Regions from separate parts of the Homo sapiens genome. Here regions 1 and 2 are each linked to region 3. Evidence: fine-mapped expression QTL. A gene starts in region 3. Each other region holds a variant in brackets. All regions are shown on one strand. Distances are from middle to middle.

Region 1 (6,062 bases), 24 kb before region 3:
CGAGTCCGTTAGAGCATCGCGTTCCTTTGATTTCCATTTTCGACGGCGCAAACTGCATCCTTCCTTTGAGACCGGCTAGAATCTTCTCTGATTAAAGGGTCTTCTGGCTTTCCATGGAAGCCTCTTCCTGGGAGCAGGCCAAACGTTTTAGTGAGAGGTCGGGTGCCTCTCGCGCTGCTGACGCCGTCAGAATCCGCTGCCTGCCTCGTCCATGCCAGTTCCCAGAAGGCGCCCGGTGCCAGAAGAGTTTGAACTTGATCCAAAATGTGTGCACCATGTAGCTTGGGAAAATTCAGCCATTAAAAGCAGCTAAAACTAAGCAATTTATGACTTACAGATGTCAATTTATGACAGAAATCACCGCATATATTGTACCAGCACAGTGACATTTTTTTGGTAATTAACGATTAAAACAGTCATTTCCCAATGTTATGAGCCACCTGGTGTCTGGTAGCATTCAGAGATGGTGCTGGCCTGGGCTGCGAGGACGCGGTGCTCCCAGCAATGGGGCAGGGTCTCCGGCAGGGAGCTGCGGGTGACACTGCTCTCCCCCCATGTCCCAGGATGTTCCCACAGTGACTGGGCACAGACCATGGGGGTGACATACAGTTTCTGCCTCAAAGATCCTGACAAACATTTGCTGAATGAGTGACTAAACGAATTAATTAAGGGTTCCGTTCCACAGGAGGTAAAAACCAAAACATACAGAAAATCTAGGCCAATAAAATACCTGCCAAGACCACAAGGATCCATTCCATTTCCGCCAGGGGTGAGTGTCCGGCAGGACCAGGCCAGAGGAAGGTGCTCTCTGACTCCAGGGCCACTCTTCAAGCCCTTCTCTCCCCTTCCCTCCCTCCTCTCCCCTTCCCTCCCTCCTCCTGTCGCCAATAGATGTGTTGATTGACTGTTCCCTGAAGCCGACCTTGGCAGCCCCTCGCTGAGTGCCGGGCAGGACCAGGCCAGAAAAAGGCTCTTCACGCCCTCTTCTCCCCTTCCCTCCCTCCTCCTGTCCCCAGTAGATGTGTTGATTGACTGTTCCCTGAAGCCGACCTTGGCAGCCCCTCACTGAGTGCCAGGCAGGACAGCCGCCCATGTTCTCTGGAGCCACTGTGGGGTGAACACACAGATCCTGCTCCCTCCGGCCCCCTGGGGTGAGCACTGGGGCTGTGCCTCCCACTTCTCTTCACCCACTCTCTAAAAGGCATCACCCGTGGGTCTGCAGGCATTTCATGCCCCTAATGCCCCAAGGACAGGGCCCCAAACTAGCCAGAGAGGAGGGAGCGTGCAGTGAAACCCGAGGCTGTATCCACTTACACGGCACAGGCCACAGCTGCCCTGGAGTGCAGTCCATGAGCTGCAAAGGAAAGGCTCCTGGCCCCAGGCCAGCTCCCCCCATGGGCATCCTGGGGGCTGCAGAGCCACCTGCTCGGAGTGGGAGTGGCCAGGAGCAGCCTTTAACCCCTGATTGATAATGACTTGGTGGCAGGATTGGGACTGTATGGTTCTGTGATCGGCTGCGAGGGAGGAGGCTCAGGCCACATGCGGGAGGAGGGCTTGGCCTCCACGCAGGAGGCCACCTGGAGCCGCTCAGCCTCACTCACCTCACTCCGCCCCCCTGGGGTGGCCACGCTGCCCCTCCTGAGGCCAGGACTCCATGTCTGCAGTATAAAGGCCAGTCAGTCCCATTCTGTCTGCCTTTCCCAGCACATTCTGACAAGCCCAGCTCAGCCCTCACTTCTCAGAGCACCTGTCTATTTGGTACATTGTGTCCCGGAGACATTCAGAGCCGGAAGCCCGGCAGGACCTTCGATTTGGCCATCGCTGGACCTGGGGCCCATCGGCCACCAGAGGGGCAGGAAGGGGATTTTGGAGCCAATCCCAGGCCCTGGCGCCTCAGGTGCTCCCTCTGTTTTCTTGTTTCATTTCTGGGTTACCAGGTGAGATGTCATTGGAAGAAAGACCTTAAAATTATTTTATTTTTGCTTTAAAAATAATAATGGAAGTTTTACCAGTTCTACAATAGAGGGATGGCAGGAAGGGCGGGCAGAGGGACAGCCGCCCAGGAAGGGAAAGTGTGAGGCCTGCTCCTGGCAGTGCAGTCCTGCTCGAGCCTGCCTCTTTTGCATCTTCTGGATCATTGAGAAACTGTCTGGGTGAAGGTGAGAAGGACTTTACCACTGTGGCAGCCCGGACAACAGGTTTTCCTCTCTTAAGCAAGTGGAGAATAATTTAGCTGGCTCCTATAAGTTTCCTGGGGCTGTCATAAGACCACAGCCCAGGTGGCTTCAATAATAGACATTCACGTTGTCACAGTCAGAGAGGCTGGAAACCCGAGATCAAGGTGTCCAGGGGCCTGGTTCCTCCTGAGGCCTCTCCATGGCTTGCAGATGGCGTCTTCTCTCTGTGTCCTCACAGGGTCCTCCTTCTGTGTGTGTCTGTGTCCTCATCTCCTCTTCTTATAAGGACACCAGGCAGGTTGGACCAGGGTCCAGTCATATGACTTCATTTATCTTCATCAGCTCTGTAAGGACACCATCTCCAAACACTGTCACCTTCTGAGGTCCTGGGAGTCAGGGTTTCCACGTGTGAATTTTGACAGGGCCGAATACAGCCCAGAACAGCCCCTTTTCTGCCGTCCTTTTTATTTTAAAAGCACAGTGCACCTTTAGTCTCCGAACTCCACACCATTCTTCCTGTTGCGGCACAAACAGGGCTCGCACGGCGGCCTGGGAAGCGCGGGGACCGTTAGGCGGAGACTCTGCATTCTAGATCTACCATCTCTTCACCTTCACTCTTGCCAAATGACTAAGCACTCGGGGTTGTGGCTTTCTTGTCTGTACAACAGAGGTATCTACTGGTCTCCAAATCTCTTCTAGCTCCCACGACCCTAACAAATTCCAAAATCAGTTCCTTTCACTCCAAAGCCATGAGACTGCATTACACTAAAACCTCTCCAGTGTCGGTCTGTGTGGCTGCAACCTCCCTGAAGGGGCCTGAGGTTCATGCCATTTATATCTCCAGTAAATCGTGGTAAATTGGGCCATGTGGGCCATCGGCTTTCATCAACTAGAGAGCGTCATTAGCTGCAAAAATGTGTTGACTCATATTCGTTGGTTTTCAAAGACCTATGGTGGCTCTGAGGTTTCCAGAGCCAGCACAATCAGTGCAATTACACTGAGACTCTCCAAAGAATGAGCTTTCTCAGAAAATAGCTGCTGTTCGCCGTGTCAGGCCAAAGGTACTCTAGGAAGGCATTTTCCGTGGTACTTTGAGGTTAGCACTTCCAGGAAATTCAGGGAGAATAAAGCAACAAGGAGGTGCTTAAAAATTCGATCAGAGGCCCAGAGAGGAAAACAAACAAAATGTAGTTGTGTGTTT[T/G]CCGAGTACAGTGGAGCAGGTGGCCGGGCAGCCTGCAGCGGGGAGGGGTTCCAGGTGTGGGCTGTGGTGTGGGGAGCAGGGACCCCATTTCTCAGAGCTTATTGGAAAGAGGGAAAAATCTCTTTGGCCCTGCTGGGTGTAGGGAAGACTTTGTTTGTCTTTTTGTGTTTACTTTTCAGTCCCTGGTAGCCTCTTATAAACAATATGGTGTGTTGTGTTTTGGAGGGATTCCCTCTATTGTAAGCTTGTATTGCATATTAACAGAAACTCAAGGCTTCCTGGATGGGCACAGAGAGCTCCATCTAATCTCACGCTGCAGACCCAGCACCCAGGAGAGGGGGTGAGAGGCTCTCCTGGCTGCCGTCTCTCCGGGATCGCAGTTGGCTGGAAGGAAGGGTCTGGGGTGGTTCCCACGCTTGAACAGGGATCGGGTTGTCCCGCTGGGCACCCTGTGATATCTCCTGCCTTTCCAGGGCATCGGTTTTGGAGTCTAGAGGATGGGGACAATGGGTTTGGCCAACTCTGTGACAATGAGGAGGAAGAGTGCATTGCGTTCTCTCTTACGCAGCTCTCTCAGTGCCGTGCTCTGCATTGCGTTCGCCTCTTATTTAAACTGTTTGACCATGCGTGGGTCTCGGAGGAAGAAAAGGAGGCAGCGTCTTCTCTTAGCACAATCAGGACAAATCCATGCCACTGGGTGGAAACACCAACCCCGGGCACCCTGCTCACCCCTGCACCCTCCTCCCGTCTCCCTCCTTCCTTCCTGCATTTCTCCCACAAATATACCTTTGGAATAATCAAATAACAAAGATGAATCACAATCCATCCACTCCCAGGGCTTTCAAAAAGAGCGCCTTGTGTCCCTGCTAAACAGAGACAGTCGAATTTTTTTGAGGAAACTTGTTTGCCTGCTGAGTTCCAACTTACACACTCAGCCATGTCTGCTCCATGCCTCACCCCACTCCGCCTTTCAATGAGAGGAGGGGACCCCCCCAGCTCCACGCCCCACCCCACTCCACCTTTCAGTGAGAGAGGAGGGGACCCCCCAGCTAAAGTGATTCCCCCCTAGTGTTTCGAACTCCGTGTACCGGACGCCAGCCTCTGCTCCCACCCTGTACTGAAACCCGGCTGCAGTTCCCCTCAGACGTCTTCAGATTCTCCCTCTCTTTTAGCATCTTGTAGTTGGCAACTCAACATGCTTAATTCAAGAACAATGACAAACCAACGCCTCTCTCCCCCGCCCCTGTGGCCCAGCCAGATCACCTTAACAGCCCACCCTCATTCCTGCCAGGCCTGCCTCGGCCCCTCACACTCTGGCCACTCACTTGTCCCTTTTAATAAAACTGTCAGCCCAGGTCACAAAATAACTCTTCCCAGGTTCCTAACTCGCCAGGTGTCCTGGCATCACGTGACACCATTAGCCAACCTCCCTTGAGTGTGGTAGGTTCCATGTAGTTTCTGTCAGCTTTTTCTCTTCCTGTTTCTTTCTGTCAGTGCCAGTTTCTCTTTCTCTCCTTATCCTAGATCTTTACTCCCCCTACACTTACTGGACGGCAATTCACATCTGTGGCTTCAACTGCAACCCACGCATTTGCCAAATCTGACCCTCTAGTGAGACTTTATTCACCCTGCTCCACTGCCTCTGGGGTATCTTGGCTGCGATATCTCACTGGCCTTCCCAAATTCAAAGTCTGTGAAACTTAGTTTGTCATCACTGTCTCTGGACCTACACAGTGTATTCACCATGTCAGTGAAGGGGTCTTTGGCTATGCCGGGGGTCCCCGAAACCCCCCTCAGGCTCTGTACTCACTGGTACTCACTGGGTAGGGCTGGCGCACCAGCAGCCATTGTTTAACATTGTGAAAGTCCACAAATTGTCACCAGCGAAGGGAGGGGAGCCTGGGTGACAACAAGGAGAATCCAGGCATTTGCCTCCAGACATCCTTGCCCAGTGAGTTGCGGGAATGGGCTTAGTTCCCCCAGAAATGATGGTGATAATGTGTGCAATGACACCAGCTGGAAAACTCACCTGAGCCTCCGGGTCCAAGGTTCAGCTGGGAAAGTTCACCTGAGCTTCGGCGTCCAAGGTTTTTATTGAGGGTCAGTCACTTAGGGAGGCAGTGTCTGTGTGACAGACCACAGCAGCTCAGACTCCAGCCTCCCAGAGGGAAAACAGAAATTCTCTATAATTCCATTATTAAAATAAACTATATGGTCAAGCAAGTACCACGTGTCCTGAATCCTCAGGCCCACAAAACACTGTGACCAGGCAAGGCCTTCCCAGGCCTGTCAGGGGCCTCCCAACAGCCCTGCCCTGAGTCTTGGCTCTGGCCTTCAGATCAGTCCTGCAATGACAAACCAATGCCTATCTCCCCCTCCCCACAGTGTATACACCTGTGCAGCCTCTTGCCCCCTCCCCACAGTGTATACACCAGTGCAGCCTCTCCCCCCAACACAGTGCGTAGACTTGCACAGCCTCTCTCCCCCTCCCCACAGTGCATACGCCAGTGCAGCCTCTGCCCCCAACACAGTGCATAGACTTGCACAGCCTCTCTCCCCCTCCCCACAGTGCATACGCCAGTGCAGCCTCTCCCCTCAACACAGTGCATAGACTTGCACAGCCTCTCTCCCCCTCCCCACAGTGTATACACCAGTGCAGCCACTCCCCCACAACACAGTACATA
Region 2 (6,062 bases), 200 kb before region 3:
AGAATTGTGCACCTCATGGTTCTGTATGGGCCAGATGCAGAGATGGGTGCAGCTGAAAAGCCAGCAGCAGAAAAAGCCCCAGTCCTGAGGACACACAGGCACATGCATGTGCTTTTAATCTTGGCTGCACGCTTTTCAGCTGTATGTTTTCAGCTTCATTTTACCTTGCGCACCTCTTTAAAGACCCCATCTTCAAATATGGTCACACTGTGAGGCACCACAGGTCAGGACTTAAATGCATGAATTTTGGGGGAACACCATTCAGCCCATGACAGAGAGAAAACCACAGAAATTCACCTTCGGAAACATTTTCTGAAAACTAAAGCTTACGGTTAGGGTATCAGTGCCCTTTTCCCAGAAACATTATCTCTACCTCAATAAGGGCCAGAAAATTCATAAATCCCACCTTCATCCCTGTAGCATCACTGCTAGAAAACCATCACGTCTCCAGGGTGAGAAATACTTTTGGAATTGAACTAACCTCTGATTAGGTTCCCCTTGATGTCTTTGCCACGTGGTGCCCTCTAACAGGGTGGTTAGAAGGTAAGTAGTTTTATTTCATTCCACCTTTTGATTTCTCCCTTCCTGGCCCTTTGGAAGGTGCCCATTTCTCATTAAAGATGGAGAGAACCGTGGTGATTCTAAGAAGGGCTGCTGTCCCCTGTGCAGGTGGCAAGCGGACCGTTCTCACTTCTCGCTGACAGTTCTTTTCCCAGGTTTGATAAGGTCTGCTTCATAACTCTCTTATGGGGAGGTAAAAAGGACCTAAGACACCATCAACTAAACTGTGTCTCTATCTCCTGGATGAGGGAAGTGAGGCCCAAAGAATGCAAGTGGCTACCGAAGAAAGCGAGATGGTGAGAGCAAGCCTGAATCAGAGCCTGGTCCCTCCGGCCCCACCGGCTGTTCTTTGCTTAAGAAGGGACCAAGGCCCTGGAGCAGGATTGAACAGGTGGGTTCAGAAAGGCCACGGGGAGAGCTCAGGTCCCCAGAGGACAGGAGCACAAAACTCAGGAGCAGATGTTCTCTGGGCAATGTAGAGCGAATCGCCACTTAGAAAAGACACTGCTGGAAGCTCTTCCATGTTGCTGTTAAAACAGAAGTCTCAGAAACAGTGTGTTAGCAGTGGCCGTAAAAGCTACATCATAGGACCATGACACACAAGGGCCTTCTGAGAAGGGGCATGCGCTCCCGTTTCCAGGGAGATACTGAATAGCGTGCAGCCCAGCTCACACCTTAGTGACATGTGTTGTCCACACCTGTGTGTGCATGTGTGTGTATGTGCATGTGTACACATGAATATGAATATAGGACACCTTAGTGTGTATGTGCACACCTGTGTGTGCGTGTATGTGTGTGTGTACACATGTATATGAATATGGGTAAATATACACGTATGTATAGGCACACTCCACTGTGCTTTTGCTTGCTTAAGTAATACACGTTTTTGATTTGAGGGTTAAAGGAAACTGCAGAGGTCGTTGAACTAGATTCAGATAGGCAAACGTCTTCATTTTTCAGATATCTATATAATAAGTACATTGAATTCCAAAATAATTATTAATCACAGCACAAGGTAAAAATCTTTAAGGAATGCAATGAATTAAGACGAGGGGTGAGGGAATTTTTCATTCTATTTCCCAAGAGAAGAATAGAAAAAATAGGAAGTTGATGTGCTACCAAGAAACGGAATGAAATACAGCACATTATTCATTCGATAAAACCCGGAACTAAATTTGAAAATTACAAAGTGTGCTTATCAGGTTGATACTCATGCTTTGGGTTACCGGGCATGTAGATTTACAATGAGGACCTACTGCGTTCCCTTGTGTGCCCCTGTGTGTTTGTGTAGAGGATACTTTCATCCACTTGCCTGCATAAACAAGAAGTCACTTCTTAGATTAACTGATTCAGAGTCAGTGCTGGTAAAACAAAGTGGAATTGAAGCCACAGGTAAATGTGCATGTTCTATTTTAACCTCAGTAAGTCAGTGAATGAAAAGTAGATTACAGAAATAAATCTGCATGCACAATAATAGCCAGGACATTTGAACTCACTCTAAGTGACCAGTGCCCCAAATGTCAATTTAAAGGTTAAATAAGTGCGACCCTCCCAAGAAAACATGTTGTAACGTTGTAGCACCCCCACAGTGTAACGAAGGGTTTACAGTGAAATAGAGTCTACACAATTTCATGACACACCAACTGACTAAAATAGCTCTTCCCATCTGTTCCCAATCTTACTTATAAAGTCGTTTTACATAAACACTCACAGGTAGGACTTCTGATAGTTAAACATTTTAAACCTTTAAATATAGTAAACAAATCCCCGATTCTTGGTGGCATTTTATTAGCAATGAGCCAGTAAGTATCAATCTCTGATCACCAGGAATGAGGGGTGCTCTCATGCCGCTGAACTTCGACAAGGGGGCAGATGGAGACGATTTCTCTGGACCCCTCTCCAGTCAGTCCTGTGGACCCCAGGAGCACTGACCAAGGGCTGGGATGAGGCCAAGGCTGAGGGTAGATGAAAGCACAAATGCTGTGTCCCTGAGATCCAGAGCTCAGTCCAGAACAGACACATCATTGAGATAATATTGTATGTGACACTGAGGCCACACAAGGCCCTCTGTACATTTGGCTTAAATGGGCTTTTGTGAGCTTTGCTGCCGTTGCAATAATGCATAAAATTCTTTA[T/C]GTGTAAAATACCTTCCTGTGCAAAGTCCCAATTGACTTCCAACAGAAATCACTTGCAATCTGTGTACCTAACACTAATGTGTCCAGCGTGTGTGTGTCTTTGCACTCCCTGTGATGTGTATGCACACAGCAAGCCCACCTAATTCAGTATAAATAGAATCCCACTAGGTGAAAGCTACTTGGGAAAATATAGAAAACACGCTGACAGTAAGGTGGTACTTTTAAAGTCTGTGTTTGATACTTGTTCTTTCTGAATTATTTTATGTCAACGTCAACATTCGTTTGGTCTTATCTGAACACATACAGCAAAATGTCACCTCTTGCAATATTTTGGTTTGTATTCTTCTCTTTATAGCTTTATTTTTAAAAAGTGACTTGAATTATTTACATAATTTTGATGATGATGAATTAACTTCTCTGCTGGGGCCAGGGCCCTTCTTTCTGCTGACATCCCCTCAAGCAGAGGAAGGCCAAACTTGAGCTGGAGATGCAGGTTTGTCAAATTAATCTCTTCCTGCATTTCCTTCAAGCGAGTGCTGGCCTTGTTTTCAGTTATGTTAACTGTATTCTTCCTCATAAAGTTCCACAATTGAATTCCCATTTTTGAAATCATCTTCATCCGAGCAGTGGGAAGATGCACATTCAAAGCGGCTTTGTGCAGGGAGAGGAGGTGGGTGCCTTTGCTTTCTGAAAACCTTCCAGACAGAAGCACTGCAGCGAGCCAGTGGCGCCAGGACATCGGGCACACACGTTAATAAACGTCTTTTATACCAGCTCCTCTTCTTTTTCCATATGATATTAGTTGCTGCCCCCAAATTTGCCTTGAGTGAGCTTCCTGCTCCTCCAAATGTTTTGCCACAGGGTTTCCACGTGTCCAGGGGCCCAGAGGCCCCCGCATGCTCCTGCAGTGTGGGCCAAAGTAGAAATAATGTCCCATTTCACCCCATCATCCATGAGACAATACCGATTACTCTGCTAAATATTCAAATAAAGACTGCCCCTAGATTTCTCTTTTGGCAATTTTTTTTGCCATCTACAAGTTAACCTATTTTTTTCCACTTTTATTTTAGATTCAGGGGATACTCAACTTTTATTTCAGATTCAGTTAACATGTGTGAGTTTCTTCCCTGAATAAATTGGGTGTCGCTGAGGTTTGGTATAGGATCTTCTCAGCCAGGGAGTGAGCATAGTACCTGGCAGTTTTTCAATCCTTGTTCTTCTCCGGACCCTTCTAGTGTTCCCAGTGTGTGTTGTTCCCATACCTGTGTCCATGAATACTCAGTGTTTACCTCCCACTTATAAGTGAGAACATGTGGTATTTGGTTTTCTATTCCTCTGTTAATTTTCTCAGGGTAACAGCCTCTAGCTGCATCCATGTTGCTGCAAAGAACATGATTTTATTCTTTTTCATGGCTGCATTATATTCCACAGTGTATGTGGACCTCATTTTCTTTATCCAATCCACCATCAATAGGCACTAGATTGATTCCATGCCTTTGCTATTGTGAATAGTGCTGCGATGAACATATAAGTGCATGTGTCTTTTAAGCAGAACAATTTATTTGGTGGGGGGTGGGTATACCCCCAGGAATGTGACTGCTGGGTTGAATGGTAGTTCTGTTTTAGGTCTTTGGAAAAGTTGGCTGAGCTAATTTACATTCCCACTAACAGTGTATAAGCATTCTCTTTTTTCCATAGCTTTGCCAGCATCTGATACCTTCTGACTTTTTGTCATAGCCATTCTGACTGGTATGAGATGGTATTGCATGGTGATTTTGATTTGCATTTCTCTAATGATTAGTCACGTTCAATGTTTTTCACATGCTTGTGGATCGCATGTTTGTCTTCTTTAGAGAACGTGTTTGATCATGTCCTTTGCCCATTTTTTAATAGGGTTGTTTGTTTTTTGCTTGTTGATTTATTTAGGTTCCTTATAGATTCTGAACCTTTGTCAGATACATGGTTTGCAAATATTTTCTCCCAATCCGTAGGTTGTCTGTTGCTCTGTTGATGGCTTCTTTTGCTGCGCAGAAGCTCTTTAGTTTAATTAGGTCCCATTTGCCAATTTTTGGTTTTGTTTCTTTTAGCAATTTTTTATCAAAAGGCCACTGTATAAAATGCTTCTGATTCAATGGAGCTAGGGAACAAATTAGTTTATTCTATAGATATCATATATTCAATTTAGAAGGCATTGTTTTTTCTGAAATCCAAAGATTTGAAATGTTGCACTTCATGAGAGAAGAATCAGTGGTGTAAAATGATGGGATCCCAATTTGGAGAGCAAGAGAATAGAGGAGTGTGTGAGACTGTAGTGCCCTGGGCATTGTAGAAGGTAAAGGTGGGCCAGGCATGGTGGTTCACACCTGTAATCCCAGCACTTTGGGAGGCTGAGGTGAGCCAATCACCTGAGGTCAGGAGTTCAAGACCAGCCTGGCCAACATGGTGAAACCCTGTTTCTACTGAAAATACAAAAACTAGCCAGGTATGGTAACACACACCTGTAATCCCAGCTACTACTTGGGAGGCTGAGGTGGGAGAATTGCTTGAACCTGGGAGGCAGAGGTTGCAGCGAGCTGACATCACGCCACTGCACTCCAGCCGTCTCAAAAAACAACAACAACAACAACAAAAAGAAGGTAAAGATAAACTTTTAGGCAGATTATACAGCTAAGAAAAATAGGAAAATCTGACCACTACAATCGAGGTAAATTTCCAAAGTTCCTTAATTCACAATCAATTGAGATGGAAAGGCAAAGTCTCTCATCTTGCCGAGAGGCTCAGGGACAGTCCCAGCCACAAGAACCTGCCTGGGAGCTGGAAGCCAGAGCCTGGAGCCCCCTCCTGGGAGGGCAGAGTCAGAAACACAACCTGGGGGCCTGGCCTCTGCCTGTCAACTGGGTCGTGCTGCCCCCCTAGGTAAAGCAGCCGTGAAGACCCTGGCCCCTGCTTTAGGGATGCTCAGAGCCGTGTTGCCAGCTGCAATCTCTAAACGCCGCTCCCTGTCTCATTCCTCCCACAGGGGCAATGCTCAGACATGGAGGCGGGGCAGGAGGTACAGGACAGCCCAGCATTTGCAGAGAGACTCGATTGTGGACTCACACGGAGGCATGCACACACACAAAAGGGCAAGGGTGACATTTCGGGTCAGCCCTGGGGGCTAGCATGTTCATTCCCCACCGTGTTCCCAGGGCAGTGGGGCCACAGGTGCCCAAGAACACTGGGAGGAAGCAGCCTCCCTACCAGCAGAAGCCTGACCGTCCATGCATGTGGGTGGGACCACGTTCTGGATGATTCCTCCAAGTCACAGGCAAGGAACATGGAGAGTGGGAAGAGCTAAGCTCCAGAATCAAAAAAGTACGACCAAAT
Region 3 (6,062 bases):
CTGATTGGAGGATTGGTGTTGGGCATGGTGCGTGGACTGATTGGAGGATTTGTGTTGGGGATGGTGCGTGGACTGATTGGAGGATTGGTGTTGGGCATGGTGCGTGGACTGATTGGAGGATTTGTGTTGGGGATGGTGCGTGGACTGATTGGAGGATTTGTGTTGGGGATGGTGCGTGGACTGATTGGAGGATTGGTGTTGGGCATGGTGGGTGGACTGATTGGAGGATTTGTTGGGGTGGTGCTGCTTGGCTCCTGCAGTCAGACCCACCTCACAAGCAACATCTTGTCCCAAAAACTAGTCCAAAGCAAAGCTACATTGTGGGGAAAGAGAGAACCGTGGGAACCTAGGAAGGGACAGACCACAGGGGCAGGACGAGTCCAGTCTGGAGCTCATAGAGGGCAGATCCCGCTTGGGACCACATGCCACTGGGTAAATACACTTTCAAAATCCCAATTCCACACATTCTGCTGGTGTCAACAGAATCCACTTCCCTCTCAGGCCATCATTGCCTCATTCTAAAATCTGTGGTTCAGCTTCTGACCAAACATGACAGCATCTAACTGTTTTCACTACAAAGGGCATCACCTGTCCAGGAAAGGGCTTTCTCACCCAACGGGCAAGAGTGCCATCAACCAGCATGACAGGAGGGGTGTGGGTGATGGGAAAACCATGGAGAACTTGAGAGGGCTCACACCGGGCGCTGCTGGGATGACCAAAGACCTCAGACAAGTAACGTGAAATTCTATACCACGGTTTACCTCTATAAAACAGGAGTAAAAGTGTGTTCCTCACACCATTATCATCAGCAGTACTTTGGCGCATCCATAAGTCCTTCCTGAGAGCCTCACATACAGCAGGGACTCAATAAGTAACTGCTCATAGATTCACGTGCACTGTCAGATCAGTTACATAAATATGAAATGTGGCCAGGGGTTCCAAACATCGATACCAACGCAGCTTGAAAGGAACCAGAAATGGAGGAACAGTATTTGATATGTCCCTTTAAAAATCTGGGTAGACCAGCAGTTTAGGAAGTGAACACGGGCACTCACAGGAGGCGCGGAGCTGCTGTATCGCACAGTAACATTAATGCAGTAAGCTCAGGTGTGTTGGCCGAAGACACAGCCATTGGCGAGAACGTAGCCCACAGCCGCGGACACGAGTTTGTCGAGAGGCTGCACATGCATTCGGGTTATTCACAGCCACCTCCAAGAGGGGAGTCCATAAAGTGTGGGGGCTGTTATTGATGGAGGCAGAATTATATGCCTCTTACTGCACAGATATATCAGCCTGGCATTTTTCTACTTACTCCAGGATTTTTATAACGTTCAGTTCAATGGCATTCTTGCTTAGTGAATAATTTTAATTTGTGCATCCAGAATGATAAATTTATGAATGTTGATGACAGCAAAGACCCATCCCTCATCGGCTTCTCCCCGTGCAGCTGGGCCCCTCTCCCCTGTCGTCCATCTGATGTTCTTGCCAACACCCCTTCAAATATCTCACGCTGGACGGCTCTCCTGCTCCTCTGATGAGATGTGTGATCAAACGGAAGAAAATTATTCTGATAGACTATCTGACCCCCGTCTTACCAAACCAAATAGCATCTCACAATATTATATTTTTAACTTTCTAATCATCCTGTTATGTATATCATCCTGTTATGTATATCAAGTCTTTTTACAGCAAGTCTTTCTAATCATCCTGTTATGTATAGCAAGTCTTCTTACAACAGAAACAGCATTCTTCTTGCCAGTCATGTTAAGGGCATTGATTTTAATTTAGTTTTTGTGGATTATTGTGTTTGCTTGATTTAAAATGAAAATCAAGGAGGAAGAAGTTTTTAAATATCATCAGGCAGTTTGCTGAGTTACTACTGTAAGCAAACCCCGTAAAAATCATCAAAACAGAATCCTAGGCATAGGAAAGAAAACTCCCTCATAACCACCGATCTATGTGGGGATGAGAATGTCTCTATAAGGAACGCTAGACATGTATTTAAAATACTAGCAGAGTCATATCGTAAATGAGGATGCGATAAGTACAAGAAGCAGTTCTCCACAAGGAATTGGAAGTGAGATTCTGTGGCGAGCACTGTAGTTTTAAACTGAGGGAAGCGGAGGGAGAAGTTCCTGTAAGAATTCTTTCCCTTTGTCATTCTCCTCAGGCTCCTGACCAGTTTCTGGGTTAAAGAGAAGGGCAGTGCCTCTCTCGTCTGTGGTCACTTGGTTAATATCATCCCCAAATGCGGAAGCTTCCAAAAAGCTGGAGTGGTTTCGTTTGGAAGTCAGAGCTGTGCACAAATAAGTTATTTTCTCTATTTCACATAATTATTAACAAATGCAAATTAAGATGCAGGGGATGTTTCTATGCCAGGACTCACCTGTGGGGAACTGTGAGGCTGATGAGGCAAGCAGCGAAGTGGCTGCCTGTGCCCGCTCACGACCCCTCCACGCACCAAGTGCGTGAGTCAGGGAGGTGCCAGGAGGAGGCGGGAACAGCTGCTTCATGTCATCCGGCTCAGTCCGTGTGTGTTGCTAGAAAGGAACACCCGAGGCTGGGTGATTTATGAGGAAGAAAGGTTTGTGCAGCCATGGCTCTGCAGGCTGTACAGGAAGCGTGGCACCAGCATCTGCATCTGGTGAGGCCCCAGGAAGCTTCACTCGTGGCCGATGGGGAGGGGAGCGGCCTGTGCAGAGATCACGTGGTGGGAGAGGCGGTGGGAGGGGCCAGGCTCTTCCTACCAATCAGCTCTCACTGCAACACACAGAGCAAGAACTCATTCATAACCAGGAGGACAGCACCAAGATAATCGTGAGGGATCCACCCCTGACCCCAGCATCCCCCACCAGGCCCCACCTCCAACACTGGGGATCACGTTTCAACATGAGATCTGGAGGGGACAAACCTCCAAACCATAGCACTGACTGTGCCACTCTTAAGAGACAGTTGGACAGCTCCTTGCCTCCTCTACAAGACTAGGGATGGGGTTCCAGGCATGCTCGTTAATGACTGCCCCATCTGCACCACCTGCCCCATCTGCCCCACCTGCCCCACCTACCCCACCTGCCCCAGGCCATCTCTCCAACTTCCCACCTGTGTCCTTTCCAAATCCCAGGAGCAGCCGCGCAAGTGCAAGACCGCCCTGCTGCCTTAGAACAAGGCTTTCCCCAGAAAGCTGTCTCTACCTAGGACATGCCCTGTCCCTCGCTTCCTGAGCAACAGCCCCTCAACACAGATGCACATGCACGCATACACACATACACAAACACGTGCATACATGCACATGCACATATATGCATGCACACACGCACATAAGCACACACGCACACACACCCATACGTGCTCACACACAGACACACGTGCACATGAGCATACACGCTCACACACATGCACATACACGCACATAAACGCACGCAGACACGCGCACACACACAAGCACATGAACATACACATGCGCACACACGTACATGCTCACATACGCACATACACACACATAAACACACAAGCACATGAGCATACACATACACACCCATACATGCACGCACACGCATGCACACATGTTCAGGCCAGCTGCCTCGGCTAGCTCTGTGCAAATGGTGGGCGTCTTCTGCAAGCCACCCTGTCTTCCCAGGCTGTCTTCCTCTCAGGACGCACATACAACCCCTCCGAGGTAACAGGACACAGATGCAACCCACAGAGCCGACAGGAAAACGTGGACCACCAGCGTCGGGCTGCTGATGTACTTTGAACTGAAAAGGCCCCCTAGATACCCACAGAACTGCACGGCTGAGGCGAAGAGAGACCATGAGAAACAGAGATACCAATGTTTCAGTCAAGGAAAAAATTAGAGAAGAATGTGGAATAAAAAGAATCATAAAGTGAAATAAATGTTTTCAGATTTTAGATTTCAGATCCACTCCCGCAGATGAAATCGTGAGATTCCTGAAGAAAATAATTGCACCAGTATTTGATCATTTTACAGTTTTGATTATGCTTATTTCCAGTTTTCCAGGAAAGAAATCTTTGTGTAACCTCATATGCACGTGTTACAAGTAGAACCAGAAATTCCTCCTCCCCCAAACATACAAAAAGGAAAGCAATTATTTAAGTCAGGTACCTGACCTTTTTTTACAGCTATTAGTACAAAAAGTGTTTTCTGGGGTGGTTTCCTGGCATGAAACTCAGGATTTATAGAATCTCTTCCTGTTCGTGAAGTTATTATTATTATTTTATTACTAAAGCCCTTAACTAAAGCAAGGATGCTTACTTAAATTGGCAGCTAGCTGTGAAAATGGAAAGGTAAAAAGACATAGCAGTATGTATTTGTGGATATAAACTATCTTTAAATCTGGAGGCTCAGACATAGATTGGACTATCCTGACTATTTTCTGTGTATTTCATTCCAGCCAGACTGCTAGTTCTAGGCTGGAAATATTATTCTCAACATAGAATTACAGGCCTTTGTGTCACCGCTCACTGTGATAGCCAGCAGTTCCTGGACCCTCACAGCACCTGTACACAGCACACATGAACACACGCGCGTGTGCACTCTGACCCTGCCTACCACCTCCCCCCGGGCAGCCACCGGGCTGTGCTGTTCTCGTAATCAAAGGTGGAGATGAGGAAAGTGTCTGCCTACAGCAAACACTCAGAAATAGATTCCTGTGAAAACCAAACAAAAAGGCAATAGAAAGGAGAAGTGGGAGATACTACATTTTTCATTAGGGCTGTTGCTGTGGAGGTTTTAGAACTTGGGCTCAGGAAAAGTGCTTCTTGCTGATTGACCCATTATCCAAGTCTGGTTGGAGGAACTTGTGATGCCAGCAGGTCTGAAAATTGCCCAGAAGATCACAAACATGGATGCCTGCTGGTGGACCAAAGAGATATTAAGGAACTCTAATTATTTTCTTTTATATCTTTCCTACTGAGTATTGGACACGTTAGTCACAAATGGCGACTGAATTAGTGGGACTTATATGTGGTGATTCCATAGGCATCAAAACACCTGTGAGGCTTAGTAGTCATAAAGTCCTGACCCTATTTTTGCTCTATTGCACCAAATACATTCATTGTATTATAAGAAGTTTGTATGTCTCAGACTCTCCTACAAAATTTTGTGTACCTTAAAGATAGTGACAAAGAATTATCTACCTATCATCTATTCTCTCTCTCTCTAATCTATCTATCTATCTATCTATCTATCTATCTATCTATCTATCTTCATATCCCCAGGATACTGTCTAGAATATAGTAAGTGCTGAATAAATTAATGAAATGCTTAATTAAAAAATGAATAGGTGAATGAATGAGTAGATGGATGGATGGATGGATGGATGCATGGGTGGATATTGAGTAGACAGATCAGGTTGATTAGAGAAAGAAACAAGCTATTCAATACTGTTTATAATATGCAGGCCATTTATACAGAAAAGAGCATTTATAAAATAGGAGATTAAAAGGATGACAGATTAGAAAATGAAATGTTCAAGATTTGTGCTGATATAATGGTGAAACTGGGATGGGGAGCATCTGACTAGATTTTAGAGAGAATTAAGCCTCAAGGTAAAACATTTTGATTTTATTTCAGTGATACTCTAAATCATTGCTTGTTTCTGATAAGGAAAGAGTCAGTATTAATTTGGAAGCTGCAAGGTTGGAATAAAGTTATTTTAATGATGAGTGGAGAATCTGAAATGTTGGAACAGGCTCATGGTCAAAATGCAGAAACTCGTGATAGAGATGAATGAGACCGAGGTGCTATTCCAGACGAAGCCTCTGGCAGGTTCTTTAAGCAAATCTAATGTGAGGGGGTGGGATGGCCCAGCAAGCATAGGGGCTTTGTTCTTGGTTTCCCCAGCTCAGGGCTGCGTGACGTGCATGTAACTTAACCCTGTAACCGAGCCACCTCCAACTTCCTGATCTGTAACACAGTGGGGTGGAGACTATGTCCTCTTGCACTTACACAAAATCTTGGTTCTAATGTTCGGATAAAATATTACTTCCACTGCCTACGTTACATATCTAAGTAGATAACCATTTGTTATCATTATTAATTA

Alleles and levels. Alleles are on the strand shown, and positions count from the first base shown. SD is a standard deviation of normalised expression in the study named. Not every link is listed here.
With allele T in place of C in region 2, the expression in spinal cord of the gene that starts at base 2,656 in region 3 is higher (large effect, 0.81 SD a copy in GTEx).

The links. PIP is the estimated chance that this variant, and not a neighbour inherited with it, causes the effect.
Region 1: its variant is the best candidate, but not a certain one, in a credible set for the expression of ADARB2-AS1 in spinal cord (GTEx, PIP 0.64).
Region 2: its variant is the best candidate, but not a certain one, in a credible set for the expression of ADARB2-AS1 in spinal cord (GTEx, PIP 0.90).

Annotation. Positions count from the first base shown.
Region 1 is chr10:1,547,521-1,553,582 of GRCh38, reverse strand. All of the region lies in intron 1 of ADARB2 (adenosine deaminase RNA specific B2 (inactive)), which reads left to right. The region is part of intron 1 of ADARB2-AS1 (ADARB2 antisense RNA 1); the gene reads right to left. Among named protein-coding and RNA genes, the nearest start is that of ADARB2-AS1, 24 kb to the right of the region's middle. RefSeq lists an enhancer at 852-1,379. The variant T/G (reference allele first, on the strand shown) is at 3,379.
Region 2 is chr10:1,718,239-1,724,300 of GRCh38, reverse strand. The region is part of intron 1 of ADARB2 (adenosine deaminase RNA specific B2 (inactive)); the gene reads left to right. Among named protein-coding and RNA genes, the nearest start is that of ADARB2, 16 kb to the left of the region's middle. The variant T/C (reference allele first, on the strand shown) is at 2,697.
Region 3 is chr10:1,523,224-1,529,285 of GRCh38, reverse strand. It overlaps ADARB2-AS1 (ADARB2 antisense RNA 1), which reads right to left and starts at 2,656. Exons shown (of 2, transcript NR_033387.2): 1 at 2,387-2,656. The region is part of intron 1 of ADARB2 (adenosine deaminase RNA specific B2 (inactive)); the gene reads left to right.